Regions from separate parts of the Homo sapiens genome. Here regions 1 and 2 are each linked to region 3. Evidence: fine-mapped expression QTL. A gene starts in region 3. Each other region holds a variant in brackets. All regions are shown on one strand. Distances are from middle to middle.

Evidence for each region.
Region 1: its variant is fine-mapped to the expression of DCUN1D2 in whole blood (TOPMed, PIP above 0.99).
Region 2: its variant is fine-mapped to the expression of DCUN1D2 in whole blood (TOPMed, PIP 0.98).

What each region holds. Positions count from the first base shown.
Region 1 is chr13:113,559,053-113,568,785 of GRCh38, reverse strand. No RefSeq gene overlaps it. Among named protein-coding and RNA genes, the nearest start is that of TFDP1, 21 kb to the left of the region's middle. The variant G/T (reference allele first, on the strand shown) is at 5,337.
Region 2 is chr13:113,411,846-113,421,578 of GRCh38, reverse strand. All of the region lies in intron 7 of ADPRHL1 (ADP-ribosylhydrolase like 1), which reads left to right. Among named protein-coding and RNA genes, the nearest start is that of ADPRHL1, 37 kb to the left of the region's middle. RefSeq lists enhancers at 1-536, 2,729-3,729, 3,730-4,730. The variant G/C (reference allele first, on the strand shown) is at 5,222.
Region 3 is chr13:113,484,369-113,494,101 of GRCh38, reverse strand. It overlaps DCUN1D2 (defective in cullin neddylation 1 domain containing 2), which reads left to right and starts at 3,391. Exons shown (of 7, transcript NM_001014283.2): 1 at 3,391-3,435. The coding sequence starts at 3,433. SLC9D1 (solute carrier family 9 member D1) reads right to left here and starts at 3,081. Exons shown (of 13, transcript NM_017905.6): 1 at 2,829-3,081. RefSeq lists a silencer at 2,771-3,690 and an enhancer at 3,921-4,220.

The DNA of each region.
Region 1 (9,733 bases), 75 kb before region 3:
ACTGAAAGACAGAAGAACTAAATACATAAAGGTATATGCTGTTCACGGCTCAGAAGAGTCAGTGTTGTCGATGGGCCAATATGTATACACATGAAAAGATTCTTGGTCTCATTAATTATCAGGGAGCTACAGATCAAGACCACAATCAGAAATCATTTTATGCCCATATGACAGGCAAACTTTAAGAAGTCTGACAATAGCAAATACTGGGAAGGCTGTGGGCCAATTACATCTCTTACACATGGCCAGTAGGAGTGTGAGTTGATACAGCCACTTTTGAAAATAATTTGGCACAATCCTATTAGGTTGAATATTTGCACACCCTGCTACCCAACAATTCCACATTCAGGACCTGTCCCAGGGATCATGCTCAGCATCAATGTTTACGCTAACAAAAAAGCAGAAGGCAGCTCAAATGTTCAACTGTAGGACACCAGATAAGCAAAGTGAGGAGTATTCCCACAATAGGGTAACAAGTGAGAATGAATGAAGTAAAATGTCCCTAACGCCCACATATATCATATCCTTCTTATAAAGTTTAAAAACAAAAAGACAAAACTCATGTATGCATAATATATATATATATATATATATATATTTATGTATATATGTATGTATATAAGAAAAGAGACAAGCTAGAAAGGATAACAAGTGTCAAAGTCAGAGTAGTTCTTTGGTTACTTTCGGGGGGAAAACTTAGGGAGTTGTGTCTCATCATGTTCTTGGGTAGGGCTGTGGTTACACTAGGATTTGTTATGTTCCATGGACATATAAGACAGGAGATAGAACTGGACCATGCATGCAAGAGTGCAGCTGCCACTGAAACAAAGATAAGGATCAACCCTGTCTTCCTACCTGAGGGCAAGCTCTCCTCATTGTCAGTCCTTCCAAATCCTGCCCACTTCCAGGGCTCACCTGACCGCCGCATACAGACCTTCACCTGTATGGCCTCTCCTCTACCACACGTCAGCAAACCGGAGAAGTGAAGGGGATCTTACAGCTACTTTTACTTCTTACTTTATATAATTTTGTTAACAGTGAAAATTATAGGCACTTTTTCTGGCATTTTTCTGTATTTCCATATAAATATATAAAACAAAATCTTAGTTTTAAAAATCTAGAGAACATGGGGCCAGGCACAGTGGCTCACGCCTGTAATCCCAGCACTTTGGGAGGCTGAGGCAGGCGGATCACGAGGTCAGGAGATCGAGACCATCCTGGCTAACACGGTGAAACCCCGTCACTACTAAAAATACAAAAAATTAGCCGGGCGTCTTGGCGGGCGCCTGTAGTCCCAGCTACTCCAGAGGCTGAGGCAGGAGAATGGCGTCAACCCAGGAGGCGGAGCTTGCAGTGAGCCGCGATCGCACCACTGCACTCCAGCCTGGGCGACAGAGCAAGACTCCGTCTCAAAAAAAAAAAAAAAAAAAAAATCTAGAGAACATGTTTTAGTACAGAAGTCGGAAACTGGTGGTTTACCCTACCCAGGATTAAAAAGAAAAAAAGCAAAGAACATTGCCAACATTTAAAAATCACAAAATTTTATACAGAAGTCCATATTTCTGGCTTTTTAAAAATCAGATGATCTGGCCAGTGTTTGTGCATTCCTACTTAGCAGCTGCCTGCCAAGGCTGAGCGGCACCAAGTTCCCACCCCTCTGATGCCACACTCAGCTCATTCGCGCCACCTGCCTGGCCGCGGCATTTGTTCACCAATTTCTCTTTACCATCTTCCCTTCCCTTACGTGGTGCGCATGTTTGTCTCTGTGTCCTGACATGAAGGAAGCCTGTTCTTAGTAGCTCAGGGTCATCATCTCCTTGGGCAGATGAGGACTCTAACAAGAATCCAGGGAAATGACCGCACACCCTGGCACAGAGGTCACCCCAAGCCAGGCTCCAAGTGAGCCATCAGTAGACAGGGCTCCAAGGGTGAGGGCAGGAGGTGGCTGAGTTGCTGTCAGGGGTTGTCGGCCTAAAGAGCTGAGATCTGTCCTACTGGGAGGCGGGAAAATAAATCCATGATGGAACCAGACCATATTTCACAGGGAGACACAGGCTGGTGGTGATAGGCACGGCCGGAGGAGACCACCTGACGTTTTGGTACAGGCTGAAAAAGAAACAATTCAGGGTTCAGCCTTTTATAGAAAATTATCAAACCAACGTTTAAAAGAAACATTCTCACTCAAAACCTGAGACTCACCTTGTCTGAGCTCAAATCACAGTGTTTGAGCCTCAGGGGTGGGCAAGAAAACTGGGTCAGGATCAGACAGGGCTGCAGAGTGGGGTGGGGACCGTGGCAACACCAGGCTGGGCCCAGGCAATTCGGAACCGCCCTGCATGGCATAATGTCCTCAGGACACTGACCAGAAACCGGACCGCAAAAAGAAAGAAAGTCGCACTCAACAGGGAATTCGGGTTCCCTCTGGCCTGCACCTTTTCCTTCTTTCCGTCTTCTGGTTATTAAAGGGGTGAATTACCTACGTCGGGCAGGGCTGTGGCGGTGGCTCCGAGCCCCGCTGTCGCCCGCCCCGGCCCCAGACCTAGAACCTCACGCTGGCTTCTGAGCGCCAGGGCCCTGCAGGTCTCTGTGATGCACCCAGAGAGCAAATGTCCACGCCAGCTCAGACCAGACAGACTGAGGACAAAACAGGCTCTGCTGACAAGCGCACACGAGGCTCAGGGACCACGGGTGCTTTCAGTCAGGCCTGAGCCGCGAAGGGCTGAGCAGTGCGCACCGGAAGAGGTGAGGGCCCTGCCGGAAAGCCACGGACAGAAAGACGCCCTCGGAAGACCAGGACGACAGCAGTGCCGCGCGGGAAGACGGCACCATGATCTACACTGGCAGAAGCTCTGCCCACCTGAGTATGAGGGTCTGAGGGGAAAGTGTGAGGGGACGGTCTGAGGGTCTGAGGGGAGGGTCTGAGAGGACAGACTGAGGGTCTGAGAAGAAGGTCTGAGGGTCTGAGGGAAGGGTTGGGGGGTCTGAGAGGAGGGTCTCTGCGTCTGAGGGGAGGCTCTGTGTGTCTGAGGGGACGGTCTGTGGGTCTGAGAGGAGCGTCCAAGGGTCTGAGGGGAGCATCTGAGGGGAGGGTCTGCGGGTGTCTTGGGAGGGTCTGAGGGAAGGGTCTCAGGGTCTGAGGGTCTGAGGGGGGCGGTCTGAGGGTCTGGGAGGAGGGTCGTTGGGTCTGAGAGGAAGATTGAGGGTCTGAAGGGAGAGTCTGAGGGTGTGAGCGGAGGCTCTGAGGGTGTAGAAGAGGATCTGTGGGTCTGAGCCGAGGGTCTGAGGGTACGAGGGTTGGAGAGGAGGGTCTATAGGTCTGAGGGGAATGTCAGAGGGGAGGGTCGGAGGGTCTGTGAGGAGGGTCTGAGGGTCTGAGCGGAGCATCTGTGGGTCTGAGGGGAGAGAGTCTGCGGGTCTGAGAGGAAGGGGAGGGTCTGAGGGGCGGGTCTGTGTTCTGAGAGGAGGGTCTGTGTGTCTGAGGGGACGGTCTGTGGGTCTGAGGGGAGGGTCTGTGGGTCTGAGGGGAGTGTCTGAGGGTCTGAGCGGAGCATCTGTGGGTCTGAGCGGAGCATCTGTGGGTCTGAGGGGAGAGAGTCTGCGGGTCTGAGAGGAAGGGGAGGGTCTGAGGGGCGGGTCTGTGTTCTGAGAGGAGGGTCTCAGGGTCTGAGTGTGGGGTTTGAGGGTCTAAGAAGAGGGTCCAAGGCTCTGAGCAGAGAGTCTATGGGTCTGAGGAGAGGTTACGAGGGCCTGAGAAGAGGGTCTGAGCGTCCGAGGGGAGGGTCTGAGGGTGTGAGGATCTGATGGGAAGGTGTGTGGGTCTGAAAGGAGGGTCCATGGGTCTGAGGGGCGGGTCTGTGGGTTTGAGTGGAGGGTGTGGGGTTTGGAGAAGAGGGGCTGAGGGCCCGAGGGGAGGGTCTGAGGGGTGTATCTGGGGGTCTGTTGGGAGGGTCCCTTCATCTGAGGGGATGGTCTGAGGCTCGAGGGGAGCGGCTGCAGGTCTGACGGGAGGGTCCGTGGGTCTGAGAGGAGGGTCTGACAGAAAGGTCTGTGGGTATGAAGGGAGGGCCTGAGGATAGTTTGAGGGGAGCATCTGAAGGAAGAGGAGGGTTTGAAGGGAGGGGAGGGTCTGTGGATCTATGGGAAGTGGCTGTGGGTTGGGGAGGGTCTGCGGGTCTGAGGGGAGGGTCTGAAGGTAGGGATAGTCCGTGGGTCTGTGGGGAAGGTCTGTGGGGTGGGGAGGTTATGGGTCTGAGGGGAAGGTCTCCGAGTCTGTGGGAAGGGTCTGTGGGTCTGAGGGGACGGCTTCGGGTCTGTGGATATGTTGGGGGGGTCTGTGGGAAGTGTCTCTCGGTCTGTGGAAAGGGTCTGTGGGGCCGAGGGAAGCACTTGTGGGTCTTTGCGGATGATCTGAGGGGTGGATCTCTCAGGCTCTGAGTTAACTGCAGACGTGGTAAGTGCTGCGGAGGAGGTGTTAGGAGCTACAAAAATGCCACAGAGAGAGACCTCGCAATGTTGTTGTCGGGAAAGTTGATCCAAGAAAGTGTCGTGGATTTAAGATCTCAGGGATGAGTGGAGAGAGACAGCTGGGGTCGTGTGGACCGGAGGGAATTGGCGAGAAGTTCTTTAAGTTTGATGGAGGACTCTGAAATTTATCTTCAGAGTGAGTGGGAGCTGAGGAAGAGTTTGGGGCAAGTGGATGGCTCTTTGTTGTTGTTGTTTTTAACTTTTTGTTTTGAATGAATTTGAGACTTACTAAAAAGTTGCAGAAATAGTACCCAGAGTTCCCACATAATCCTCCCTGGCTTCCCTCATATCCGTGTCCAGCATGGCCACGACACAGATATTAAACCCAGCACCCAGTGTGACACCGTGGCCCATGCCTGTAATCCCACAATTTTGGGAGAGCAAGGCAGGAGGATCACTTGAGCCCAGGAGTTCAAGACCAGCCTGGGCAACACAATGAGGTCTCATCTCTCCAAAAAATAAAATCAAATTACCCGGGTGTGGTGGTGTGCGCCTGTGGTCCCAGCTACTTGAGTGGGGAGGATCGCTTGAGCCCAGGAGCTGGAGGCTGCAGTGAGTCATGATTGTACCACTGCACTCCAGCCTGGGTGACAGAGCCAGACCCTGTGTCAGCCCTAACCATCCTTGTCCTGGGGCCTGGGCATGGATTTTGCTGTCTCGTGTTCTCAGGACTGTATGAAGTCAAGCCCATTTGGCAAGCATCCTGTGGAGGTAAGGCTGTCTCTCAGTGGCTCCTGAGCTGATGTGTCCAACTACAGGTCCAGGTGGTGTCTGCCGAGTCTCCTGGTCAAATTGCCGTCCTTCCTCTGTAG[G/T]GGATAATCGTCCTGGAGACACTGGGAGACCAAATCCTGATTCTCCTGGAACTTCTCTGATTTTGGCATCCATGGGGGTCTTGTCAGCGGCAATCAGTTCCGTGGACTTTGCCTCGTGGTGATTTTCTGTTTCCCCCTTTCCTCTGGCATTTATCCATCGAGGTTCTCCTGCAGGGAAGAGCAGTGGGTCCTTCTTCCCCGTTTGCGTGTTGACATGGTCAGTGACGACAGCAGTGTGAGCTTGCATGCATTTATTTTATTCTACAGTTTGCAATCAGCACGGCCATTGTGCATCTTGTTGCTCACACGACCCAAGGTTGGCCCCTATGTCATCTCAGGGAATGACATTGACAGATTTACAGTTTAAAGCCCCCGCTTGCAGTGTGGGAGTGGGGTGTAACTGGGCAGGGATGGACGCAGTGAGGTAAGGCCCAGACTTCCCATGGTTACAATGTCATCTCAGTGACTAATGAGGAGCCGAGAGCTTCCTCAGTATTGAAAGCCCTTCTTCGCTGACCTAGCCCTGGGTAGAATGTGGGTTTAAAAAGCCTAATGTGGTACATGCTTGGGTCCCTCTGATGTTCTAGAAACAAAACCTGCTTTCCTTGAGACTTGCTTTCTTGTATTTGCTTGAAGACAACGCGACCTCTCAGCGTGGCAATCCCAGAATCAGGTCACTGGACAACTTGTTAATTTTGAGCACGGTGACTGGGATTTCAAGGTAGAGACTTGGTCCACCCGCCGGCTTTCAAGAGTGAGGAGCATGGTGCTGCCTTCTAACTATGCTTTTTAACAGGATTCGGTTTGCAGTGCCACAAACAAAGTGAGCCACTGGGAGGCAGCAGAGGCCTTGGAGGGGAGGTGCATCTGGCAGCCACAGAGCTCATTGCGGGACCACCCACAGGCACGCGGAGCATCTTTGCCTTGTGGAGCCTGGCACCAGGACTGCCGGGAGGGGAAGAGGCTCAGCCCCCACACCCGGGGAACCTATGCCACACCGGGGCCCTCTCCAGCCTCACTGGCAGTGTCTCTGGGACCACTCCCCAGATTACTTGTCCTGGGGTCAGCTCGGGCAGGGAGGCAGAGTAGCCCTACAAGCCCTCTGCAAACACACACATGCTCTCTCCACAAACAGAGTAGAACCGCACCACATGGATTCTGCATAACACCACACTGGGGCCCTGGATGTTTCCCCCTCATCCACCTTGTTTTGAATGTAGAACGAAGTCCAAAGTTTTTCTTCTAACAGTTCCAGGCAGGCTGGCATATCGAATCAATCCAAACCCAGTCTGCCTGTCCTCAGATCCCCTCTGCACCACAAAGCCCAGGCAGTATGATCACCCTTTGCCAGAGGCCCTCACAGCTGGGCCTTCACCTGCGACCTGGGTTCCACACACTGCTTTATCTGCATGAAGCTGGGGGGCAGAATTGGCCAACGAGAGGTGCAGCCACACGGGAGTGGCCTGGGCCTTCGGGAAAGCCTTTAGACATTGTGTGGACTGTAGAGAAGCTCCTGGGGCCCAGTGCCAGTGTTGCTCGTGCTTGGGCACCTCTCCTGCCGCATCATCCCTGGCAGTGACGTCCACCGGCTCTCAGCCCAGATGGGGAGACCATCGGTCTTTATCTCTGAGTAAAACTCAATCTGCTTCCACCTGCTGGTGGGGATTCTGTGGTCTGCAACTGAGCCTCTGAAACCGAGGGCAGGATAGGAGGGACGTGGAGTGGGCGCTACGTGGTGGGTGCTTGACACTCCTTCCTGGTTGTGTGACCGTGAGCCAGTGACAGCCTAAGCAGAGGGAGCTGTGATGAAGCTTGTAGCTGTAGCGCGCCTGGGCCCCAGCCTTGCAGCTCCAGGGGTGGAGCTCTTCCAGGAACAAACTCTTCTCTGCCACTCTGTGGACAGAAGGCCCTGTCCACGTAGGGGGCTCTCACTGCCATTCACATGCCTTGACCCTTCACTCCCTTCGTGAGATTCAGAGCAGCCCTTCTGAGAACAAAGCGCAGTGAACATCTCTGGAGACACCAAAGTCCCCTCGAGTGAGAAACAGACTCCTGAACGCAGGTTTTCAGGATGTGAACCCCGGCCCAGAGCCTTACCCATGGATGAGGTGCCCATGCAGTCCCCAGGGTGCCTTTGACCTCTTATTCTGTAACTTCACATTTCAATTAAAGTGTTGAGGGAAGATGGCCATGACCAACACCAACTCAAAGCTGTCCATCAATACAGTGAAGAAAACAGCCTCTCAAGTCAGCTTTCAGTGTGTGAAAGGTGGGCAGCCCTATTACAGGGCTTTCTCTGTGAATGTCACTGTCCTGTTGAGCAGCCTTGAGTGAACAACTGGACCTCCAGGGCCACCATTTCCTCCCTTGCAAACCGTCATGCTAGTCAGCCCCGGCGTCCAGGACCGACTCACAAGGCCACGTCTTGGTGAGCAGCGGGGTCTTGGCCGCCGTTCGGCTGGGTAGGAAGTGCTCTCTGGCTTCTGCAGCTGGCTCACTTTCTGTATGCCACCCACCCACAGGCCCGTGGGACCCGTCTGTCTGTCCTTGGGCTGTCTCCCTGTGCCCGGGATGTGGCAGCAGTGGCCAGTGTCCTGAGGCCCTGCCCTCTGTGAAGCTACCACGTCCTGGCAGCTGGGCCCTTCTCTTGCCCTCCGGTCCCAACTCTGAAGTCTGAGAAGCTTTGTCCAGCCCCTCCCAGCTTCTGCCTACATTGCATGCCTGCCTCCCCTTTCGCCCTCTCAGCAGAGTCTGCAAATGTTCCTGCTGCTTAGGCTTTTGTAAAACAAACACCAGGAACACAGGAAACTAGGTTTGTCCTGGGGTAGGGGCTGCCAAGAACACCCTGAGATGCTGGGGGAGGAAATGCCCATCTCAAAACCTGCGCAACCCCGTCCAGACCTGCGACCCTGTCCAGACCCACGACCCTGTCCAGACCTTCGCGACCCCGTCCAGACCTGTGCGACCCCATCCAGACCTGTGCAACCCCGTCCAGACCCGCGACCCCGTCCAGACCCGCGACCCGGTCCAAAGCTGTGCGACCCCATCCAGACCTGCGACCCCGTCCAGACCTGCGACCCCGTCCAGACCCGTGACCCCATCCAGACCCTCGACCCGGTCCAAAGCTGTGCGACCCCGTCCAGACCTGCGACCCCGTCCAGACCTGCGACCCCGTCCAGACCCGTGACCCCGTCCAGACCCGCGACCCCGTCCAGACCCTCGACCCGGTCCAAAGCTGTGCGACCCCGTCCAGACCTGCGACCCCGTCCAGACCTGCGACCCCGTCCAGACCCGTGACCCCATCCAGACCTGCGACCCCATCCAGACCCACGACCCTGTCCAGACCCGCGACCCCGTCCAGACCTGCGTGTGCTCAGGGGGCGCAAGCCAACACTGACACCTGAAGCGAGCATGGGCTTAGAGAGAAAGCCCCCCAGAAATGTGCTCTTTTCCCACGGGGTGCAGGTGACACCTGCTGGGACACATCGGCTTATGGACACATTGGCTCGTAGGCACGTCTCACCCCAGACCACTGAAGCAGCGGAGAGACTTCAGTGATAAATCACCCCCTTTATCAACCTTTAAATTTGAAACAGTGATGCCCCCCTTCACCCCACCCTTTTTTTTTTCTTTTTGAGATGGAGTCTCGCTCTGTCTCCCAGGCTGGAGTGCACTGCCGCAGTCTCGACTCACTGCAACCTCTGCCTCCCAAGTTCAAGTGATTCTCCTGCCTCAGGCTCCCGAGTAGCTGTGACTACAGGCGGTGCCACCACGCCTGGCTAATTTTTTGTATTTTTAGTACAGATGGGTTTTCACCATGTTAGCCAGGATGGTCTCGATCTCCTGACCTCGTGATCTGCCCGCCTCGGCCTCCCAAAATGCTGGGATGACAGGCGTGAGCCACCGCACCTGCCAGTGACACCCTTTTTTTGTAATCCTTCACATAGACAACAGCTACATGTATCCCTTTTCAATTATTTCCTCACAGCCCCTCGTACTCCCCTTGCCTCTAGTTCTTGGGTCTGTTTCTCTGGGCCACACTTCATCTTATTCATAGATCATGGAATAATCTAGTTAGATTGTGAAAGGAAAGATTCCAGTTACACACCCACGGAAAGAGAGCCACAGCCCCATCCCCAGCCCTGGGTTCTCAGGACTTCATTTCGCAGCCCTCTGGTCACTGACCACGCCGGGCGGCCTGTTTCCTGCCCCTGCCATTTGGGCCTTCTTTCCTCAGTGACATTACACCTGGTGGCTTCAGACTTTCTTGACTGCCTCAGTGAGAAGCTACTTTTTGCCTCATCAGCACACACAAACACACACGAGTGAGAAGTAGGTGTAAAATGGAACCAAAGCTTCATGAGATGGTGCACCCTCACCCTCTACTCTGTTCCACT
Region 2 (9,733 bases), 73 kb after region 3:
CACTTCCAGGCGCCTCACTCCCCGGCCGCCTCCCCTTGATGGAAATGACCCCTGCATTCATTCAGTGCAAGGAGCAGGCGTGTCCCAGGGGTAGAGGTGTCCTGGGGGTAGGCATGTCCCGGGGATGGGCGTGTCCCAGGGATGGGGGTGTCCCCAGGGGTAGACGTGTTCTGGGGGTGGGCAAGTCCCGGGGGTGGGCGTGTCCCAGGGGTAGAGGTGTCCCGGGAGTGGGCGTGTCCCGGGGGTGGGCGTGTCCCGGGGTGGGCGTGTCCCGGGAGTGGGCGTGTCCCGGGGGTAGAGGTGTCCCGGGGTGGGCGTGTCCCTGGGGTGGGCGTGTCCCGGGGGTAGAGGTGTCCTGGGGGTGGGCGTGTCCCGGGGGTAGGGGTGTCCCAGGGGTAGGCGTGTCCTGGGGGTGGGTCTGTCCTGGGGATGTGCGTGTCCCGGGGGTGGGTCTGTCCTGGGGATAGGCATGTCCTGGGGGTAGGGATGTCCTGGGGATAGGCATGTCCTGGGGGTAGGGATGTCCCAGGGTAGGCATGTTGGCGGGGGGTAGGGGTGTCCCAGGGGTAGGCATGTCCCAGGGGTTGGCGGTCCTGGGGGGTGGGCGTGTCCCAGGGCGTGTCGGGGGGGGTAGGGTTGTCCCAGGGGTGGGCATGTCCCAGGGGTAGTGGTGTCCCGGGGTGAGCGGGTCCCGGGGGTGGGCGGGTCCTGGGGCTAGGTGTGTCCCAGGGGTAGAGGTGTCCCAGGGATAGGGACACGCTTTGCTTTTTCCATAGAGATGCCCCGTTCGTTTTGTGGGAAGTGTAGTCCATGCTGATGGAGGAATCCGTGGCCTTCTATGCTGCAGCAATGTGGCTCCGTGCTGAGCTTCCGAATAACTGGACTAACTGTGCTGCTACTGGTGCTTTAAGTCAGAAGAACCAGAGAGACAGGCACACGGGGGCGAAGGGCCTCACGTCACACACGTCCATGGAGTGTGGTCCCAGCACCCGTGGGTGTGGGGAAATTAACTGAGAATTACCTTTCAGGAAAAGAAACCCAATTAAGGTAAGTCGGAACTGTTGCTAGCATAAGTAACACGGTCGTAGTACCTGTTTTGCCCGCTTACCGGAAAGTGGGCTTCCCTCTCCACCCTGCTGTATGGAAGAGAAGGCCAGCTCGCATGAGCAGGGCGCGGCTGCATTCAAACAGGGTGGACTCGGTCTCCATCCGCAAATCAAACCCCTCCGTGAGAATCAGAAAGTGAGTCTATTTACAAACTGATTATAGATTAAAACACACAAACACAAAATCCACAAGCATCGTAAACAAAAGCTGGCAGTGCCTTGCTTCACTTTCCTGTTACAGAGACACCCAAAAGTTGAAAAGAAAAAGCCAAAGAAAGCACTGAGGGGACACTGAGCCAACTCTGCTGTTTAAAACGGCACCGGCAGGTTTCATTTTTGCGATAAAAATGACGTGTGCACAGCTTCGCGAATCCAAATGCTGTTAAAGGCGGCGTGTGGGGAAAGCTGCTTCCAACCACCCAGATAACACGGTCACGGTCGCCTAAGCCTCCTTCCAGGAGCCTCCTCACACACCCCCCGAGCTGTGTGCCTGTGTGAGACACACCTGCTTATGTGAGATAACAAGGCCATGCTCTCCTCCCAGGAGCCTCCTCCACACACACACCCTGGCTGTCCACCTGTATGTGAGACACACCTGCATGTGTGTGCTATGCCACACACACTATTTCTTTCCCCAAACAGGAAGCATGGTATATGTCATGGTTTGCTTTTGGCTGTTTTCATTAAACTAGGTTTTAAAATATTATCTGTATCACCATACATAGACCAATCTGCGCCTTTTTAACTGCTGCCTAGTATTCCATTGTACTCCTGTGCCATAATTCAAATACCCCATGGATGTGGCTCTCAGTGGTTTCCATCGCGTGAGTGGCATTTGCAAACACCTGCTCTTATGGCGACTTCCAGTGTTGCTCCCCAGCTCTTCTGAAAAGGACTTAGTCTCTCCCTACAGCGCAGCGATGCTGTATTTCATTCTAGGATTCATTTTTGTATTTAATTTTTCTGAAATTGTGGTGCATCTTATATTTTATGGTGTCCATAGTTTAAGTGATGGAGTTTTTATTTTTCTTTCTCCAAGACATTCTTATGAAATAAGGTGTGGCCAGGTGGCTCAGGCTTGTAATCCCAGCACTTTGGGAGGCTGAGGCGGGAGGATCGCTTGAGCTTAGGAGTTTGAGACCAGCCTGGGCAACATGGCAAAACCCCATCTCTACAAAAAAAAAAAAAAAAATACAAAAATTAGCTGGGTATGGTGTTGGCGCCTGTAGTCCCAGCTCCTTGGGAGACTGAGGTGGGAGGATTGCCAGAGCCTGAGAGGTTGAGGTTGCCGTGAGGTGAGATCACATCACTGTACTCCAGACTGGGTAACACAGTAAGACCCTGAAAAAAAAAAGAAAGAAAGAAAAAAGAAAGGGAGGGAGGGAAGAAGGAAGGAAGGAGGGAGTGAAGGAAGGAGAAGAAGGAAGGGAAGGGGAGGGGAAGGGGAAGAAAGGAAGGAAGGGAGGGAGGAAGGGAGGGAGGGAGGGAGGGAAGGAAAAGAGGGCACATTATACAACCTCTTAGGCCCAGCAAGGTGTAGCTCCCCAGGGGTTCTTCTCTGGGAGCATCAGTGTTGCACATCCCTGTGGATCCGCATCTCTTGCAAGACATCAGGCACCAGGAAGGGGCAGGCAGGAGGATGAGTGCCTCTCACTCCCAGATGGCAGACAAGGGTGCTTCAGAGGAAGGTGGGGTCCAGAATATGCCCATTCTCAGCCTGAAGCTATTGGCAGACACCTTTCTCTCAGGCCCACGGATGTGAGCTCTGAAGCCAGGACTTGGGATGGAGAGTTCCAATCGTGGCTGAGAAAGGACATGTGTGTCCTCATGAACACACCACACAGAAGTCACACACTAGGAACATGTGCCATGTGGGAATATGAGCATGTCAGTAACACACACATGTTTAGACTTCAGGCTGATTTAGATGAATCCGTTTTCCCAAACTCTTTGATTAGAGATTTTGCATTTATATTTAAAATTATTGTGTCCAGTGTTTTCATATCTGAAAGCCATGGCAGAGCTGTCCTTCCTTTCCCACGTTGGAGGAAGCGGATCCAGGGAGGCTCGGTGACTTGAGTGGGCAGGGCAGCCGCTCAGAGCACCCAGCCGAGGAAGTGGCGAAGCCCAGCCCCCGTCAGACCGAGAACCATGCTGCTGCAGGCTCCCTAATGGCCAGCCATGCAGCAGGTGGCATTTGAATGTTATTTCCCCTGTCTATTCCATGCTCCACTAGAAGCGGGGCCCTTTTTACTACCCCCATTTTGTAGACAAGGAAACTAAGATTCAGGGGGTCTGAGTATTTCTCCCAGAGCTGCAGTTCATGAGCACAGAGTAGCTTTTAAACCCGACGCATCCGAAAACCACACTCAAGCCTTCTCCCCTTCCCCTAATTCTGGAAGACCTCACCACCACCACAGCCCTCAGCAAACCCTGGCGATTGCATAACCTCAGGCCCAAGCTGCCAGAAGCCAATGCCACCTGTTTTGGCTGTGGGTATAAAAATTAATAAAATATCAGCTGATAAAATTGGTAATACCCAAACTGATGTTCAATCCAAACATCTGTGCTTTAAAAACTCCATCATTGAAATGCATTCCAAAGGTCCCATTAGGTTGGAAATAACTGGAATCTCAGTGCAGGCACTGCAGCTCCCCTGGTAAAAATCCCTCGTGTGTAAACGCATTTCCAGTTAACACACAGAAGCTTCCCTGGTTAAAATCCCTGGTGTGTAAACGCATTTCCAGTTAACACACAGAAATAAGTTATCAGCTCACTTAGCCTGTTGCGGGAAAAGCATTCACATGAGTCTCAAAGAACAGCCTGAGACCGTCTCGGGATTCGTGTGCCACACCCCGAGCAGCGGCTGCTGGTCAGCAAACAAGGGCTGAGACAGACAAAGGCAGGGATAGCGCCTGATCTGGGACAGACAGACAAAGGCAGGGACCGCGCCTGATCTGGGACAGACAGACAAAGGCAGGGACTGCGCCTGATCTGGGGCACTCTGTGTCTGGCACCACACACATCGCGAACGTTCTGTCTGATGGCCACAGGGGCGGTCCCCAGGGTCTGAACCATCGTGTGGCCCTGTGGGCAGCATCTCCCTGCCTTCCCCATCCTCCTTGTACCCTGAGAAGGGCAATCGCCCAGGACCCCCCACTCTGGCTCTCCCTCGGGCAAGACAGGCTGCACGACCTGGGGCCCTGGTGGTGCCGGCGGGGACCATGACCAGCCTGCAGATTGGGGGGACAGCCTTGTCTTGTCCCACACACCAGGAAACCAGAGAGCACAGAGTCCCCGGGGCCCTGCCAGTGGGGTGCTGGTGCATCCGGGGTTCCGCAAAGCATCGCCTCTCCCAGCAGCCGTCTGTGCTGTCACGGTCCTTGAATGACACCTGTCATGACGCAGCTTTGCTGTCTCTCTCTCCTATCTTAATGGTTCACTTTTAAGTTTGTTTCAAAAAAACTAGCTCCGACAACTCCCACGCCCCTTTGCCCAGGATCAGCAGCCGTTAATATTTTCCCTCATCTCTCACTGCACACACTCGTGCATTCGCACGCACACCCTCGCACATATGAGCACGCACACACAATTGTTTCTGAAACATTTGAGAATAACCTGCCGACCCTATATCCTCTCACCATAAATATTTCAGATGAAATTCCTCAGAAAAGACAGGCTCTTCTGTAACCACTGTTTGCTTATTCAAAATCGGAATTTAACCTTCAATAACGCTATTATCCAACATAACAGCATCCTGTTGCAATATAATATACTATATTGTGTTTTTATTATGTGTTAGAAATTGTGCCTACTGCTTCATCGGTTTCCTTTATAATCTATATGTTTGTAGCACAAATTGGTGACAGAAGCTCACTAACCCGATACCCTGTATGTCCCACAGGTACTGAGGGACCCTAGGCAGTTGCTGTAATTAGGCGGCAGGCAAGCATCCCTGGAACCCTCTGCTGACTTACTCATGTCTCAGGCCTGGGAGAGCATCCAGCGCTTATGGCCTCAGTCAGCCTGGGATGGACAGTGTCCCCATTATCAGTCACAGCCGGCCGACTAGACATCCCTTCGTTGGTCACTGCCGGTTTACCAGACGCCCCTTT[G/C]TGGGTCCCAGCTAAGTCAGTCACATATAAGATCTTATGTAGGTCACAAAAAGATGTTCAGGTCAAGGCCTTGGGGTATCCTAGCCCAAAAGTCCACATCGACCATTAGCCAGATTTATTTCCAGGAAATACAGATACTCAGGTTCTCCAGCTGATTCATTAGTACAGTCTGAGCTATTCCCCACCTAGTTACAAAAAATCAACAGGGAGCAGTTAGCAAACACTTGTTCTCGGCTTTACTAGATAGACGGTGACCGTTGCAATGATGCTCAGAAGCTGCTGGGGAGGGGATTGGCCAGATCAGCTCTGCCGCCGCCTGGGGGCCACTCTCGGCCACCCCACGGGATCCCAGCCGGGCCCCTGGCCTTCCAGGATTTTTAGAAAATACTCATCCCTTGGGGTTAGATTTTCTTTTTCATAAATCTAATATTAGATTCTTTAGTAATCTCTCCTCAGCCTTTGGGCTAAGATCAAGTATAGATTTATTTGTAAAATGTTAGGAGCCTCAAATTAAAGGGATCTGTGTTATTTAAAACCAATTTTAAAAAAACTACTAAGGAGGCGAGCTTGCTTCTCTCTCTCTCTCTTTTTTTTTTTTTTTTTTTTTGAGATGGAGTCTCACTCTGTCACCCAGGCTGGAGTGAAGTGGCACGATCTCAGCTCACTGCAACCTCTGCTTCCTGGGTTCAAGTGATTCTCCTGCCTTAGCCTCCTGAGTAGCTGGGACTACAGGTACACACCACTGTGCCCAGCTAATTTTTGTGTTTTTAGTAGAGTTGCGGTTTCACCCTGTTGGCCAGACTGGCCTCGAACTCCTGACCTCGTGATCCGCCTGCCTCGGCCTCCCAAAGTGCTGGGATTACAGGCATGAGCCACCGCACCCAGCCCTTCTCTTTTTATAACACTAATTCGGTGGACCCTGCCTGGTCGCCTGGAGCCGGCCACTGAGCCCACGCCTGGCTGGCCTCTGGGCAGAACATTTCCTGTCATCAGTAGAGCAGCTGGGCCATGGAGGCCACTTATTCAATGCCTTTGGTTAAACCCTTTCCAGGTCCACACTCTGCTTGGGGACCACATCGCGGGCAGGCGTTTCTCACCCTGCCCCACCCGGACACGGGCAGGTCCGCGTCTCCAGAAGGGCTCTCGTCCCTCTAGGCTGACCAGCAAGAACCCCAGGAGCCCAAAGGTGCAGCCCCAGTGTCTCTGTCCATGAGCTGTGGAAGGGACTCTGCCACCGCAGCTGCCAAACGGCCCCTCCCCTCTCCTCACCTGCCCCAGGGGGTTGCTGGGCGCTGGCTACCTAGGGAGGTGTCGCCCTCCCTGATCTTCATGGCTTCAGGGGAAAATGGGCACAGAACAAGCAGCCATAAAAACAGAAGAGGCTGAGCTGGGCATGGTGGCTCATGCCTGTAATCCCAGCACTTTGGGAGGCTGAGGGGCATGGATCATGAGGTCAGGAGTTCGAAACCAGCCTAGCCAACATGGTGAAACCTCATCTCTAAAAAAATACAAAAATTAGCTGGGCGTGGTGGCGGGCCCCTGTAATCCCAGCTACTTGGGAGGCTGAGGCAGGAGAATGGCTTGAACCCGGGAGGCGGAGCTTGCAGTGAGCCGAGATCACGCCATTGCACTCCAGCCTGAGTGACAGAGAAAGACTCCATCTAAAAAAAAAAAAAAACAGAAAACAGAAGACCCCTGCTCAGCACACTCAGGGAGATGTGCAGAGGCACGTGGCCCTGCCCCTGGAAGAGGAGCATTGGCACCACAGCGACAAGAGCAGTTCCACAGGCACAGATGGAGCCACAGCCAGGATGTGTGCCCCCAGACAGGCCTGTAGTGCCCTGAGAGCATATCGGGGAGGCCGGGACTGAGCTGTAGAGGGGAGGGAAGCCGGGGGCTGAGCCGCAGAGGGCAGGGAGGCTGGGGACTGAGGGAGGGAGGGTGGGGGCCAATCTGCCAAGGGGAGGAAGGGGGGGCGGCTCCAGGCTCATCCGCAGAGGGGCAGGAAATGGCAGTGCAGGCCTCTGGTGTTGATGGAGGCCCAGGACATGTTTTCTAAGCGCTGTTGGCCGAGGGCATCCAAGTGTCCCTGTCAGAAACATGTGGAGGCTGGCACAGGGATGTGTGTGACATGGCTGAGGCTGGTCCGTGTTCTGAGCAGGCTCCTGGAACAGCCAGACAGTTGCAGGCCCAGCTGCCACGTGAAACCGGCCCTGCCCTTCTCTCAGAGGAGGAAACTGCGGCTGAGGGTGTTCCCTGCCGCAGGGCCAGGCTCGGGTGAGCCCAGCACAGCCACTGACTGGGCAGAACAGTGACCTCCAGGCCCTGCTGGCCAGAAAGTCCCCAGCAAAGAACCTGCCAACAGGGGCTGCTGTCCATATCATGGTGGGCCCGGGTGTGTCTCCTGCGCTGTGATGGCCTCTAGTCTCATTGTATTTTCAAACGACCTCTCTGGCTGGCCAGAGCCACCAACAACTAAATTAGGAAAGCCGGGCACCCTGCTGTTTATATTGGCCCCTGGGAGGAAGACATTCCATTCCCTGTGGGTTCTGCAGCTTGTCCAAGTGCTGAGGGGACGCTGAGGGAGGCCCGGTCTCGCCCCGCACTGCTGGGCGGGCAGCGGTCACACAGGGCAGCCCAGACTCCGCCAGCGCAGCTCTGACCGGGGGCCTTTTCAGGAGGCTTTGAGGGGTGGGGCTGACGGCCCAAGGGGCAGCACTGGCTCCAGCGCATGAGGACGCGTTCACTCAGCAGCAAGGTGTGCAGCAGGGGTGGGAAAGGGCGAGAGGCCCACCTTCACAGCAAGTGAAGGCCCCGATCACAGGGCGCCTCGGGAGACACGCAGAGCCCCACGCGGGAGTCGCCGAAAGTCCTGGGCCCCCCTCTCAGTCCATGACTTGGGGGCGTTCCTGGCGTCCACGCTGTTCCCCTTTGTGGGGACATAGAGGTCTGTGTGGGTCACCGTGGGGCTCACAGAGCTGGGCCTCTGGGAAAGGCTCCCTGAGGTGGGGGCATCTGAGCCGGGTTGTGAAGGATGAATAGGAGCTCGTCAGGGAGGCAGCGAGGCTGTTCCAGGCTGAAGGGCACAGCGAGGTTGGGCGTGGAGTGGACAAACAGGGTGGAGGCTGGAGCTGGCAGAAAAGGGGGTGGCCAGGAGAGAAACAGGGTTGTGCAGTGGGTGAACCGAGTTCTGCGAGGCGCTGTTGGCGGTGGGTGAACCGAGCTCTGCGAGGAGCTGTTGGCGGTGGGTGAACCGAGCTCTGCGGGGCGCTGTTGGCGGTGGGTGAACCGAGCTCTGCGGGGCGCTGTTGGCGGTGGGTGAACCGAGCTCTGCGGGGCGCTGTTGGCGGTGGGTGAACCGAGCTCTGCGGGGCGCTGTTGGCGGTGGGTGAACCGAGCTCTGCGGGGCACTGTTGGCGGTGGGTGAACCGAGTTCTGCGGGGTGCTGTTGGCGGTGGGTGAACCGAGCTCTGCGGGGCGCTGTTGGCGGTGGGTGAACCGAGCTCTGCGGGGCGCTGTTGGCGGTGGGTGAACCGAGTTCTGCGGGGTGCTGTTGGCGGTGGGTGAACCGAGTTCTGCGGGGCGCTGTTGGCGGTGGGTGAACCGAGCTCCGCGGGGCACTGTTGGCGGTGGGTGAACTGAGCCTCCGGGGCACTGTTGGCGGTGGGTGAACCGAGCCTCCACGGGGGCTGTTCGCCACCCACGGGTCTTCTGCCAGCCCGCCCGGCTGTGCCCAACGCTGCTCTGGACTCGGGAAAGTAGAGACCAGAACCAACAGGGGTCCCGCCCATGCAGGGGCTCTGCTCTAGTGGGGAGCTGGGCAGAAACAGGGGTGACTTGTTGAAAAGTGCACTCGGATCTTAGAAAATTATAGAGCTGTGGCTGGGCGCGGTGGCTCACGCCTGTCATCCCAGCACTTTGGGAGGCCGAGGCAGGCGGATCACGAGGTCAGGAGATCGAGACCATCCTGGCTAACATGGTGAAACCCCGTCTCTACTAAAAAATACAAAAAATTAGCCGGGCGTGGTGGCGGGCGCCTGTAGTCCCAGCTACTCGGGAGGCTGAGGCAGGAGAATGCTGTGAACCTGGGAGGCGGAGCTTGCAGTGAGTCGAGATCGCGCCACTGCAGTCCAGCCTGGGCGACAGAGCAAGACTCCGTCCCAAAAAAAAAGCAAATTATAGTGCTGTGACAGTAGTCACCCGGGATGTGCCAGCAGCAGCAGCACACGCTGAGCTGGGGGCTCCCAGAATCCCCCAACCAGTGAAACCCAGAGCACAGAACATGCTGAGCCGGGAGTAGACCCCGGAAGAAGGAACCACCCGCAGGTTCAAGGAACCCAAAGACAGCAGCACCTCTGGGGCTACCACGAGGGGCGGGGACCAGAGAGGGTGAGCGCAATAGTGGGCGGTGGGCGCAGGACTTTGTGACGAGAAGGGGCAGCCCAGGGGAATGGCAGGACAGCAGGGAGCAGGGGAGTGGCCAGGCCAGACCCAGGGAGGAACTTGGTTAAT
Region 3 (9,733 bases):
CCTGGAAACCTGGTTACTAAAAGATGTATCTATATATCTATACTTTCATTTCACTGCTAACCCAAATTCTAATTGGTTTAATCGAGTTTCCCAGGCAAAGTAGGTTAGATGCAGCAAAAGTAAGGGCAGCATTTCTGGAGGCAGCATTCTGCCCAAACCATGAAATGGCAGCCACAGAAAGAGACAAACCTTATGCAAAACAAACAGGAGAACTAAAAAAGCCTGGAGGCCAGATGACTCGGTGAAGGCTCAGCGACTGTCTGCACCCCAGCAGGTCCTGAAGACAGTACTGTGTTAGACAACAGTACTGATCAGAATTACAAGCAAAAGTCACCAAGAAAAGACTATATTCTGGTTAGAAAGTGTTCAATTCAAAACATTCTTGGAGACTGACTCCCAAAAGGAGAAGCACACTCCACAGAGAATTCACTTACCTAGAACAGGTAACTTCCTAACAAGATAGGATAAATGATAATGTGCTGTTCCAATCACTCAATTTTATGTTAGTTTCAATACAACTTTAAGTACACGTGTACAACTTTAAGTACACATTTACCACCTTAAAAACAAACAATGAGGCAATCACTTAGTCATGCCTAGCCATATAGCTGAGCTGTTATTTTAATGACTCACTCAACTGCTAAGCTTCTCTCGGTTGGTCCAACGGAGCTAAATAAATCAACAGCTACTTCACAAGTGAACTTTTAGTATTTTCCAGAACCAAGACAGAAATCTGAGATGCTTTGCTTACACTTCCCAGTTTCCCCAAAAGATCCCAAAAAGTGATTCTTTGATGGATTTTATGCTTCAGAAAAATAAGTTTCAACACAGCTCATGTGTGAATGACACCTCTATGTTCATTTCTGGTTCCTTCCTCAATCAGGTTCCTAAAATTAGTTGTCCCTCTAAGGGAGCTATAATTTTTATGAGAAACCTTTGAGGATTTTAGTTGTAGTTATACTAAAATTTCCCACTGAAACATACTCATAACATGAAACTGAAATTATTTATGGACCCTTAAAATACAAATCACCTTTATTCAAACTCATTTCATTTTATCTTCAAACTTGCCTCCAAAATCCTACTGACTACTAAATTGTAGCATGTTTTTTGAGCAAATTAGTAAACATCTTTAGCTGTTCTAGTTATTAAAAAGACACTTTGGATTCCTGTAATGTGTTTTTTTTGTTGTTGTTGCTGTTTGAGACGGAGTTTTGCTCTTGTCACCCAGGCTGGAGTGCAGTGTTGTGATCTCAGCTCACTGCAACCTTTGCCTCCCGGGTTCAAGCAATTCTCCTGCCTCAGCCTCCCAAGTAGCTGGAATTACAGGCGCTCGCCACCACACCCAGCTAATTTTTGTATTTTTAGTAGAGACGGTGTTTTGCCATGTTGGCCAGGCTGGTCTCAAACTCCTGACCTCAGGTGATCCACCCACCTCAGCCTCCCAAAGTGCTGGGATTACTTTTTAAATAATGAATTCTTAGAATTTCTGCATCTTGAGCAATTGATACACATAACAATGCGGATGTATCTCAAGGCTGAGTGAAAAAAAATCTCAATTTTATTGAGAAGACACACAGGTGTAGATTCACACTCACTAGTGCATGTATAGTTGGTGCAATCTCAACAGGTCAGGGGATTTGATCAAAGAAAATTCCCCACATATACTATGGTTTTGCAAGGTGCTACCATTGGAGAAAACAGGGCAAAGGCACTCTGTAGGATTTCTCTGTATTACTCCTTACAACTTCATGTGATCTACAACCATCTCAAAATAAAAAGGTTTTCAAATTCTACCTAAGACCAGGTGCGGTGGTTAATGCCACTGCTGTATTACGACACAATTATCTGTATTCCCAGCGCTCTGGGAGGCTGAGGTGGGCGAACTGCTTGAGGTCAGGAGTTGGAGATCATCCTGGGCAACACAGCAAGACCCTGTCTCTATTAAAAATGAAATAATTAGCCGGGCGTGATGCTCCCTGTGGCCCCAGCTCCTGGGGAGGCTGAGGCGGGAGAATCGCTTGAGCCTTGACCAGCCACTGCACTCCAGCCTGGGCGACAGCAAAACTCTGTCTCAACAACCACAAAAAAGCTTTAGAATATTTAAGTCAAGCCTGTAGGAGAAAAAAACTACAAATATTTCACAAGTAATCCAATCATTAAGACACTCCTTTTGAAAAAGCCGGTAAATAAGATAAATTTGGAAGACAGAATAATCAGAAAAACAGGCAGTGAATAGGGACCCGATACGCAGCGGTCTTGCTTCCCCCGCGCAGGCGTCCACACCCTGGGTCATGGACACCGTGAGGAGCCGTTAGGAGTCACAGGAGGGGGGCCAGGGACAGGGCTGCATCTCTGCGGCCGGCCCTGGAGGCCCCGAGTCCACCCGGGCGGCCAGGGTGGGAACGCAGGTTCCATTCCAGGTTAGAACGTGGGCCTCAGCGAAGAGCGCCTAGGCAAGGCCTGGAGGAGCGGGACCCCAGGCCACACAGACCACCCGACCCCGGGAGACAATACCTGCAAGAAAAGGGGAGCCCCGAGGAGAGAGAGAGGGGAGGTGAGCCCCAGGGAGGGAGAGAGAGGAGGGGAGCCCCAGGGAGGGAGGGAAGGAAGGAAGGGGACCCCTGGGAAGGGAAGAAGGGAATGGGAGCCCCGGGGAGGGAGAGAGGGGAGCCCCAGGGAGGGAGGGAAGGAAGGAAGGGGACCCTTGGGAAGGGAAGAAGGGAAGGTGAGCCCCGGGGAGGGAGAGAGGGGAGGGGAGCCCCAGGGAGGGAGGGAAGGAAGGGGACCCCGGGAAAGAGCCCCGGATGGACGGGCCTGGTGCTCACCGGGACGCAGGGATCCGCGCCCGCCCGTCCGGCCCGAGCATCACCGTTCCGCGGCCTGGGCCGGGCTCTGAGGCGCCAGGACCCGAGGGGCGGAGGGGGACGCTGTCTCCCGCCTCGGAGCGCAGCGCCGGAGGGCTTCCTTGCATCCCTTCCCAGGCGGGACCAGGGAGGCCGGGAGGCCGGGAGTCCGGGAGGGAGCGGCCGCCGCCCTGCCCAGCACCGCCCCCGCTCAGCCAAGCCGACCCGGACTCCCGCCCAGCCGCAGTCACTGCCCCCTTTAAGAGGCGGGGCGTGGGCGGGTCCCGTCGGCCGCGGGCGGCGAGCACTTCCTGGCCGGCGTGGGGCCTGGCAGCCGCAGGCTGGCGTTGGACCCCGCAGGGGCGAGCCAAGGCCCTCGCAGAGGGCTGGACGCGCAGGGGCTGTGGGGCGCGAGCTCCCGTGGGCCCCCGGGCGGCGCTGAGCATGCCGGGAGTGGGAGTCCCCGCGGCCGGCTCCCGGCACTGCCCCGGAGCCGAGGGCCGCGGCCGTCCGAGGACGAGGGCGGAGCCGCCGCCGCGCCTGCGCAGAAGGCCGGGGCCGGCCAGAAGCGGGCGGCGCGGGGGAGATGGTAGGTGGCCCGGCGTCGCCTCTGCCCGTCGGGGTCGGGGTCGGGGTCGGGCCCCAAGGTCGGCGCAGGCGGCGCGCTGGATGTGGGAGGCCGAGCCCAGCGAGCTGCGCGGGGCGTTCCGCGTGGATCCGAGGGAGGAACGCGCCGCGGGCCCGCGAGCCGGAGCGGTGGCGTCGGAGGCGCGGGACCGCGGGGAGCGCGGGTTTGACCCGGAGCCGCGAGGGACGACCGGGAGTGAGCGGAGGGCGGGGGCCGGGAGGAACTGTAGGGGCCTTGGGGCAGGGGCCGGGGCCGAGCGGGAACCCAGGCCGGGGGCTTCCCAGGGCGGCTTCGAAACGGGCAGTCGAGGCGGGCGAGGGCTCGGCTGCTCCTGCGGGCGTCTGTGCAGATGCTGAGGCTGTTGACCAAAACAGCGCAAGGAAGGAATCCGCGAGAAGCTCAGATTCGCGGGGGAGGCCCTGCTGCCGGGAGGGGAGGGAGAGGCACAGCGGGGCCCTAGCGCGGGCTCTAGCCGGGAGCTGTAGCGTGGCTGTAGGTGTGCATCTGTGGAGCTGGTAGAGTTCCGCAGCGCAGGAGGGAGGCTGCTGGAGGTGCACATCAGTTACTTTGAAATGTGGTGGAAATGGTGATGGATGGGATTTATTCAGTCCACATCGGTTCAGAGGCCAGCAAGGTGCTGCTGGGTGTGACTGGTGCTGGGCCAGGCATGATCTTGGCGTTGAGGGAGTTGATGCCCCAGCAGGGGAGACAGGCACCAGATGCACAATTGTTTGACCACAGTTGGGACAAAGGCTAAGGCACGGGTTCCAGGAACTTGTAGGATGCGGCTGTGGGAGTGGTGTCAGATGCTGAGGGTGTGAGTTGAACTGTGGAGAATTTCTCTGGAAATTAGCCAGAGAAAAAGTGAGGTTCCGGGGCAGCCAGCCGTGTGCGGCTCCAGGCAGAAGAAACAGAATGCACAGACCCTTAGTGGTAGGCGATGATGACGTATAGGAGCTGAAAGATTGTCCTGGCTAAGGCACAGAGAGCCACCGGAGAAGGGACACGGTAACGTGTAGAGGGGAGTGGAGGGTGAGGACAAGCTTCAGGATGGGAGAAGAGCCACAAAGGAGACTGAGAGGGGGCTGGTAGGAGAAACCAGGACACTAGAATGTGTCGAAACCAAGAGGATGGAGTTTAAAGGAGGAGGGAGCCATCAGCAGTGCTGAACAAAAGAGCAGCTGAAAAGATCCCACTGACCGCAGCAGCCGAGCTTTTGTGACCTTTAGGGGTCACTGCGGAGGCCGGGCTGGAGCCAGGTAGCCTGAGTTAGGATGCACACCTGGGCAGGTAGAGATAGCTTGCTCCAGCTTTTAGGAGGACAGGGGCAGAGTGGACAGGAACTTAGTTTGGGGAAAACTTGAACATGTTCAGGATGCTGGAGAGGAGCGTTCCACTGCTGCCGAGGTTGGAGATCCAAGAGCAGGGATGAATTTAACTCCCCCTCCCTCTAGCGTGCTGTATACCGAAACAGAGTGAAAGTGATCCATAAACTTACGTAGTTTATTCGATCAACATGATTGGCCCGCCAGCCCCGGGTAAGTTGACCCTAAGGACATTTTAAGAGTAATTTCTTTCCATTTTACATATGGGTATCCTTGGTGCCAGATTATATGAGTCGTATTTCACAAGGTCACAATTAAAGTGTTTGAGACTTTTTTATAGTTTAGAGATTTTATTTGCTGTTTCCACTGGATTGTCCAGATTTTTATTTCAAGAATTGTGTACATTTTAACAGAAATAATGAAACCTAGAAAATGCCTTCCCCCCACCCCATGTACACACTTTAAAAGCTGGCCTTAATAATTTAATTTGCATGATGTGGTAAGCCTCAGTGAAGGTTGTGAGCTTGAAGGGCGGCCCTAGTTCCAGTGTATCCACCTTGATTAGATTGACCTGGGTTCAGTCCTGTCTGGGTGCACTCGAAGCTTCTTGCCAACGTCTGGGCCTTTGTTAATTTGACCTGGGTTCAGTCCTCTCTTGGTGCACTCAAAGCTTACTGCCAATGTCTGGGCCTTTGTAAATTTGATCTGGGTTTAGTCCTGTCTAGAGGGACTCGGCTTCCTTCTCTCCCCTGTAGTTTTTTAGTTGACGAGCCTTTTTGTTTCCTAAGAAGCTTTATGCCAGTTCCCTTTTTCACAAGAGGTAACTTGGGTCTCTCAGTCACTTTTGGACATGAAGCACCTAGTCTTTAGACTTAGCTATCGATCATTGCTTTAATCACTGTTATTTTATGGAGAAACCTGTAAGGGGTGACATCAAATGATTGCAGCTTTGTTGACTGACCAGAGGCCTGTTAATGGACTAAGCCTAGACCCCAAAGCTTCTCTTGCTCCTTCAGAACCAGTGCCTTGGCACCACCGTGTGGTTCAGGGTTTACTGGAGTATCTTGTGACATCAGACAATTTGAGTAGATTGCAGGGGGCTCTTCGTGTTTCTGGATACCGACTTCTGTCCACTCTAGCTAACAGTAGTGATTCAAAGCCATTTTGAGTGGCCTGGATCCATGTGCTCCTGCATCTGTTCTTCTAGAGTTCCAAGAAATTAGGCTGCTGGTGTTATGGTGTTGTCACACATTAGGGGAGGCTTCAAGGGGTTATCGGCAGGAGCTCAAGATCAGACACCATCATATCTTCCAGATTTGCACATTCCTGGTGTGGAGTCATCAGTTGTATAATGCTGGTTAAATAATTCAGTCGCCGAAGAGTATATTAGTCTGCTGATTGGTCTTGGAGGGTCTGAGGGTACAATGTTGAATTTTTTTAGGTGAAATTCATATAACATAAAATTAACTATTTTAAAGTGTACAATTCAGTGGTGTTTAGTACGTTCACAAATTTGTGGAACCACTACCTCTATCTAGTCCTAAAACATTTTTGTCACCCCGAACGATAACTGTACCCATTAGCAGTCACTCCCAACTCCTCCCTTGCCCCAGCCCCTGGCTACCACTCACCTTTCTCTCTATATAGATGTGCCCATTCTGGATATTTCATATAAGTGAAATCGTACACTGTGTGGCTGGAATCGCACACTGTGCGGCTGGACTCATGCACTGTGCGGCTGGAGTCGTGCACCGTGTGGCTGGACTCGTGCACTGTGGCTGGAGTCGTACACTGTGCAGCTGGAGTCGTGCGCTGTGTGGATGGAATCATACACTGTGTGGCTTCTTGTGCCTGGTTTCTTTTACTCAGTGTCAAAAGTTCATCCATGTGGCATGTATCAATACTTCATTCCTTTTTATGGCCGAATTATGTTCCGTTATATGGATATAGTAAATGTTGTTGTATAACCATGGCAGATTTTTAAATCTAGCAACGATGACCACTTCCATAATAAGGGCGTCATGGCTGTTCCTGGTGGTGGACCATTTTGGGGGCTGCACTTCTGTCTTTATCCTAAGGTTTTTGAGGTAATTCTTGGCTTTGCTCACCCTCCCTTGGGAAGGCTGTCAACTTCATAAAAAGACTCTAGCTGTATCTTTTGTCAGCTTACGGTCAGAGACTATGGGATCTGCCTTAATTTAGCTAAATTTGATCTTACCAGAGAATACAACCTTGAATTTTTTGTTTAGTTCTTTTCAAAAGCTCAGTTTCAGGAAATAATGTAGTGAATATGTATTCCATTTATTCCTCTAGAATCTAGATCGGGGTCGGCAAACTACAGCCCACAGGCTAGCTGTCTGTTTTTGTAAATTGAGTTTTATTGGAACACAGCCTACGGCTGTCTGCTTTGGCAACAGACCCACAGGCCTGAGATGGCAGAGATGGCTGCTGTCTGGAACATTAAGAGACAAAGTTGGCTGAATGAAGGCTTCTGATCTTCTTCATCCGTTCTTAATCTGAGTTCTACCTTCCCCTTGTGAGGACTTTGCAGATGGGCTTAAGCCATCTGTGAAACCCCTGAAATTTTATGCAAAGCTGCCTGCACGTGTGAGGGCCATATATGTTTTCCTGGAGGGCGGACCTGTGACTCCTCAGATTCCAAAAGGGATCCAAGACTCCCAAATGCTCAACACTCATTGTTTGAGTAGCCGAAATGTTAATTGCCTAGCATCACCTGAATTAGCCATTCTCTTAAGTGTTTAGTCTCAGGAGTTCGATGTGGTTTTTGGGTTTGTTTTTTGTTTTCTAACTTTTAGGTTCAGGGGTACATGTGCAGGTTTGTTATAAAGGTCAACTGTGTGTCATGGGAGTTGGTGTACAGATTATGTCGTCAACCAGGTACTAAGCACAGTAGCCGGTGGGTAGTTTTGGGATCCTCTCCCTCCTGCCACCCTCAAGCAGGCCCTGGTGTCTGTTGGTCCTTTTTTGTGTCCACGCCTGCTCAGTGTTCAGCTCCCACTTACAAGTGAGAACATGTGGCATTTGGTTTTCTGTTCCTGCGCCAGTTCACTTAGGAAAATGGCCTCCAGCTCCATCCATGTTGCTGCAAAGGACACAATCTCGGTCCTTTTTATGGCTATGTAGTATGCCATGGTATATATGTAGCACATTTCCTATATGTTTTTAAGAATGATTGGAACCCCAGTCATTCTTAAATGAGAGTTCTTGTTTGTGTGGGTAATAGTCATCAATATTGACCATATTAGAAATTAAAATAGTATTAAAATATTTCTATAGTTAATTAGCAATAAAAACCCATTACATTTTTGCAAATATCTTAATGTCTGGCTTGATAAAAGATAGGCTCTCGAATCTCGCGTTCATTCCTGTGATATCACAGGCCTTGCAGCCCACGGAGGCCTCTGCTGTGCACTCTGTGAGAATGAGAGTGAGCAAGGCTGGTGGCGGCTTAGGACGCTCGGGAAGGTAGTTCTGTGGGACTCCTGAAAGGCCTCAGGACCCAGGATCCCAGATGCACACGGGAGAGTATGTATCTGGACAGCGTTATCTTAATGCCTCTGCAGAATCGTCCTCTGGTATTTTGGCATCAGCATGCTTTTTGATTGCCTGTCTCAAAAAAAAAAAAACTTCTGGAAGCTGGCTCTGCTGTACGTGGTTGGCATTTTGGTGAGGAATTGGTATGTGTGAGGGGACATTGAACTTTGTGAGGAGCCGCAGAAGACGTTTCCTCAGGTTTTAGGCCAGAAGGGTCTGTATCTGTACCACTTCTGAGCTGCTGGTAAGGTTTTAGATCTTATGAAAACGGATTTTCCTAACTAATCGTGTTTTCTTTGCTGTGGCACTGGGGAAGCTTGGAGCCTGATTTCCAGCTCTTACATGTGACAGGCACGTCCTTGTACTAATGGCACCCCTTCCTTATCCACACCTTGTTATCCTTCTATATACTTTTGTTAAGTTATGTTATAAATCATTCCATGTGTTTTTATAAGTTGTCTCATCTTTATTTGAACAAGATTGAGTATAAATCGTTTTGAGTAAAAAATTTCCTGCTTATATTATTGTGTAAAGCATTTTTGTAAAACGTTAGCATCCAGTGGATTCTAGGGTCTGTTTGGATTTAGAGAAGTTAGTGTATCACTTTCTTTTCCAGTGTTGCTTTTATCAGGTTACTTTATTTATTTATTTATTTATTTATTTATTTATTGAGATAGAGTCTCGCCCTGTCGCCCAGGCTGGAGTGCAGTGGCACGATCTCAGCTCGCTGCAATCTCCACCTCCCAGGTTCAAGTGATTCTCCTGCCTCAGCCTCCCAAGTAGCTGGGACTATAGGCGCATGCCACCACACCCAGCTAATTTTTGTATTTTTAGTAGAGATGGGGTTTCTCCATGTTGGCCAGGATGGTCTTGAACTCCTGACCTCAGGTGATCCGCCTCAGCCTCCCAAAGTGCTGGGATTACATCATCAAGTTACTTTAGATAAGTGGAAACTCAGCCCTCCTATATCTGAAAGTGTCAAGATGTTACTTTGTTTCATTATATACTATATATAGTACAGCTATTTGGCAGTTTTGTTATTTATTGCCTGCCCAGAGCCTCTGTCCTATTTTTTCATTTTATTTCTGTCTGGTATACAGAGGCATTCTTGTTATTAGTATTATTGTTTCCATTTAATCATAACAGGTTTTTTTGTGCCTGCTTGTGAAATTTTCATAAATTACTTTTAACGCTATTCTTAGTTATTTGTGTACATTTTCATCAATGTGATTCTGTGATTTAAAGTGGGAAAAAAAATCTCCAAACCGCACAGCCTCTTCCCATTCATTAAAGCCTGAACTTTATTGAAACCAAAGAAGACTGCAGCTGTGACCCCCGCTGGTGCCGTAAGGTCCTTGCCCTGTGTCCTCAGAGGCTAG